Regions from separate parts of the Homo sapiens genome. Here region 1 is linked to region 2. Evidence: fine-mapped expression QTL. A gene starts in region 2. The other region holds a variant in brackets. All regions are shown on one strand. Distances are between the middles of the regions.

Region 1 (2,500 bases), 25 kb after region 2:
AGATGCTATTTCACTAGGAAAGGAGTGGGGTCTAGGATTCTGTATATTAGTATCCCCGGAAGATTTCAATGCAAGTGGCTGTTAAACAATACCTTGAGGAACACTGCCGTATGGTATCATGATCTGGGAATAGCCTGGAAATCTAGGTAGAAGGGGCAATTTGCTCAGCAATTTTTGTTAACTATAACTATAAATAACACATACTATAAGAACTTACACTATGAAGGATTTAAATTAAAAGGCATTTTAATAAGCAAAAATTAATTAAAAAGTCATAGTAAAGGAAATAGTCAACAGAGTGAAAAGCTAACCTACAGAATATGAGAAAATATTTGCAAACCATATATTGGATAAGGGATCAATATCTGGAATATATAGAGAACTCCTGCAATAACTCCTGCAAATTAAGTTGGGTCAATAACAAAATGACCCAATTTAAAAATGGGCAAAAGACCTGCATAGACATTTCTCCAAAGAAAATATACAAATGGCAAAAAAATATGAAAAGATGCACAACATCACTAATCAGAGAACTGTAAACCAAAACCATGAGATATCACCTCACAATGCTTCGGATGGCTATTATTTTTAAAAATGGAAACAAACATTAACAAGGATGTGGAGAAAGTGGGACCCTTGCATACCATCAGTGGGCTTGAAATGGTGCAGCTGCTGTGGAAAACAATAGGCAGTTTCCTCAAAAAATTAAGTAGAGAACTGTATAATCCAGCAGTCCAAATTCTGTGTATTTGTGCAAAAGAATTGAATACAGGATCTCAGAGAGATACATTAAGACCTCATTTAATGTCATTGATAGTTCTTGGAAACTGCAACTTTAGGCAAAACGACATAAGCCATTTTTTTCTTATCAATATTATTATGAAACAGTGTTATTCTGGACCTGTGTATATCACTTTGCCTATAGTTGCAGCTTCCAAGAACCTGTCAATGAATTTGACACTGTATACTGTGTTTATTGCAGCATTATTCCCAATAGCCAAGAT[G/A]TGAAAGCAACCTAAATATCCATTGACACATGAATGGTTAAAGAAAATGGTGTGTGTGTGTGTGTGTGTGTGTGTGTGTGTGTCTGTCTTCAACATTGCATATACAATGCAATATCATTCAGCCTTAAAAAGGAAGTCCTGTCATATACTACAACACAGATGAACCTTAAATGCATTATGCTAAGTGAAATAAGCCAATCACAAGAACACAAATACTGAGTGTTTGCATTTTTATGAGGTATCTAAAGTAGTCAAATTCATAGAATCAGAAACTAGAATAGTGGTTGCTGGGGGCTGTGGGAGGGGAAAATGGGGAGTTGTTCAATGGGTGTAGAATTTCCATCATGCAAGATGAAAAAGTTCTAGAGATCTGTTGTACAACAAAGTGTATATTGTTAGCACTACTATACTGTACACTTTTAAATTAAAAGAATAAACTTTTTTACCATAATAAAAATATTAATCAAAAAGTACCAACTATCCTAATAGTTCATGGTGACATTGAACTCAAGAGAAGAATATGATAATTCCATTTCCTTTGAACACCCTCTTTTTATGAAAAAATTTGTTGGAAATTTCAAGCTAACTAAAGTAAATGTGTACTTACAGTGAAGCTGTCTGGGTGGTGAGAGGACTGGGTGTTGGTAGCCTCTCCATGATGCACTGAGTGGAGGGCAGAGCTTACTTACTTACCCTGAATGTCATTCCCAAAAGCAGCTCGTCCAGATATTTGGATGCTCTCCACAAGGAAGAGAGATGTTCACTGCAGGATGCTGTCATATCAGAGGCATCTGACACTCTGGAAATTCTCTTCTTCCTCTCTCTTGTCTGCATACCTGAAGCGTGGGATTTGCACATCGTAATTTTGTCCCCTTGAAATGTTTTTAAATAGCCTAGGAAAGCTTTAATCACTTTAGGAGTACTGGTTGCCAGGATCCTTTCTGAGACCAAAGGAGAATGATTGGATTGATTTTGTGAAGCAGTCTGGGCATTCATATGCTGTGAGCACTCACTCTGGCAGCTAGAGGTTTTGCCTCTGGCCAGTGACCATTCCTTTGAGTAGTGAGCTTTCTGTTCTTTCCAGTAACTGCTGGCAAGTGGGCTAATGTGGCTGGGCTGGTGGGCCCTGGGGTGGGCTAGCTTCCATGAGTGGAGCAAATGGAGTAAGGGCAGAGACATTGACTCCAGTATTTACTAACGAGATAAATATACAAGGCTAGGCTGGTAGATACCTATTTTCCACCTTTGTGCCCTTCTTGCTATCTTATTCAAGCATATCAACCCTTTTTTGGTTTTTATTTGGGGTTTTAAAATTTTGTTCTATTTTTGTTTCTATTTTTGCAATGTGCTGGTTTGTTTCTTTAAAAATGTTGATTATAAAATATTTCAAATCTGTAAGGAGGCATACAGATGCAATATATTCACCACCTAGCTTCACAAAGAGAACACTATGTGTGCACTTGAAGCTGCTGTATATCTCTCTCACATCACATCCC
Region 2 (2,500 bases):
AAATGTCAACATATTCTATACTTTTTCTCCATCCATTCTGGCAAGACACCATGCTATCTTGAGATTAAGCTAAGTCTCCTGGTTCAGATTCAAATCCCTGCTCAATAATCTCTTTATGGCACTCTGGGCAGTGTCTTCATCTGTGAAATCGGGATAATGATTTTATCTACAGTATTGGGTTGCTGTAAGGATTAAATATAAAGCATACAGCATGTGCCGGACATAGAGCTAGCACTCCATCCATGTTAGCGCAGGATTTCTGATTCGTCAGCATCATTACTCAATAACTATCATTCGGCCCTTTTAAATTGTTTCAGCGACGACTGAATGAACTTATTTATAAATGTATAACATAACTAGGGATGAAGTCATACTACATTGAGGTTTCATTTCCACATAGATAATATTAGGAAGCAGCTATGCCAACACTTTTTCTTCCTGTGATCTGTATACTGCAGGGTCTCTAGAAACAATGGTTTGGTTCTTTCCTGGTGACAAAGGATAAGAGAAGATGAAACTGCTACAAATGGCAATAACTTAAAAATAAAAGATACAGAAATATATGGAAATGAAAAACATATACCTATACATACACAGCTGTTTTTAAAACATGACCTTTATTCTCGAAGCTCAAACTTGATTTCCAGGTACAGCAGGCCTCTGTAACTTTTCTTGGCAGTGAAGTCATGAAGTCTCCTGTCCTCTAAAGCTACAGAAATTTAACCTGGAAGCAAGCAGTAGGCACTACGCACAGCACAGAGGGAACCCTGGGGTGTACGCTGTGGCTCCCACCTGTCCGCCAGGTCATTGTGACGCAAACGCTATGGCCACGTGGAACACCTGCCGGAGAGCAGGGGCGGGGTCACTCTGGGCGGCGGATCCGAGCGGGGGATACCCCAGGAGATGGGGGTCGAGGAGAGACCCCGGGGAGTAGAGAGAGAGAAACTCACTCCCCGAGTCCCCGACCCTCCCCAAGCAAGGTGAGGTCAACGCCACCCACCTTCCCCCGGTCACCCTGGGAGGGGTCGCTCCGGCGGGCGTCTGCTGGAGGGTAGAAGCGGGGAAGGGAGGCAGCGGCGGCGCCCAGGCGGCGGTAGGTAGCCGGGCGGCGAGGGCGCCCGCACCCCCCGGCCGCTGCGCTGCGCTGCGGTGCGCACGGGCTCCGCCGGTTGCTATTCCGGCTGGTGGCGGCCGCCGCAGGAAGGGCCGGTTCCTGCGCTCCCCCCGCCCCTTTCCCTCGCCTTCGGCTGACGCTGACGTCGGATGAGTGATCCGGAGGGACGCTCCGACCGCGGCCGGGAGGCTCCTGGGGGCCGGGGCTCCGAGGTACCTGCCCTCCGGGGTCGGGGCGGGGGCGCGCCGGGCGGGCTGCAGGAAGCAGCAGGAGACGCCCGGCAGCCGGGACGGTCGGGGACGCCTGGTAGGAGCTGCCTTCTCTGCCCTCCGCGGGCGGCGCGTGATAGGCGAGTCGCCTCCTCGGGTCCCGGATCCCGGTGCGGGAACCGCATCAGCCCCTTCCCCTCCCCTCCTCCCTCCGGCCTGGGAAGGTCTGGAGGATGCGCGCGCCGTGAGAGCGTGCGTCAGCCCCGGGGGAGCGGTAGGGAAGCGTTCCGCGCTCCGGCCCCAGCGCTGGGAGCACCGGCACCCATGCCAGCCCACCCCACCCACCCACCGCGCGCCTCGCCTTCCCGGCGGCTCCGGCCCCAGGACCCCGAGCTCCCTGGTGGGCAGGGACTTGCGTCCAGGGTTGACTTGTTGACAAGTTCACCTGCCGCGGCGCCTGGTGTGTGCTTTTTCTCTTCCCCTCCGTGGCCCTTTTTTTGGCAGGGGCGGCAGAGAGCATATGGGTACCTCTTTATAACCACTAGTGCCAGGAGGCCTGAGCTTGGTCCCCCGGGGGCGAGGTGCTCAGCAGTCTCGGACTAGACGGGGCGAGAACCCCTAAGCAACCCCGGTTCCAGCAAACCCTGGCGCGCCCGTTTCCTTTGGGCGCTGCTGACTCCGCCTTTCCTGCTCCGGGGCTATTGCAGCTCCTGCTTCCTCTAGAAACGAACATATCCTGTTGTTATGTCTGCCTTTCCCCCAAAGCGGCTCTCCAGGAACCTTTCCCACTGTCTTTTTACTTGTAGTACCCCCAAAGCACCTGAGCTTCTCTTTGGGGTCTTAAAAGTATCGCGCCCTTATTCTGGCGAAGGGCATTAACTGCCTGGTTGGGGAGAGTTAGTTTGGAAAGAATCGCGTTCTCTTCATTTAGATGGCATTAAAAAATTAGCGCAAGAAAGGGTTTTGTTCATGAATCTTAGTAACCGAGATCTGGTAACGGTATAAAAATTATCAAGGCCTGGAAAATATGTCACCAGCTTGCTTGGGAGTGATACTGAATGTAGGAAGAAAGACACATAAGGCATTTATTGGCCATTAAGGTCCTATAAAATATGACTCATCGCAAACATGTTTTTGTCCATACGTTTCAGTGAAGTCTCTTCGGAAAATCTCAAAT

The links. PIP is the estimated chance that this variant, and not a neighbour inherited with it, causes the effect.
Region 1: its variant is the best candidate, but not a certain one, in a credible set for the expression of ICA1 in whole blood (INTERVAL, PIP 0.60).

What each region holds. Positions count from the first base shown.
Region 1 is chr7:8,236,407-8,238,906 of GRCh38, reverse strand. The region is part of intron 1 of ICA1 (islet cell autoantigen 1); the gene reads left to right. Among named protein-coding and RNA genes, the nearest start is that of ICA1, 25 kb to the left of the region's middle. The variant G/A (reference allele first, on the strand shown) is at 1,005.
Region 2 is chr7:8,260,920-8,263,419 of GRCh38, reverse strand. It overlaps ICA1 (islet cell autoantigen 1), which reads left to right and starts at 1,253. Exons shown (of 14, transcript NM_001136020.3): 1 at 1,253-1,326. ICA1-AS1 (ICA1 antisense RNA 1) reads right to left here and starts at 1,195. Exons shown (of 6, transcript NR_125740.1): 1 at 1,001-1,195; 2 at 594-840.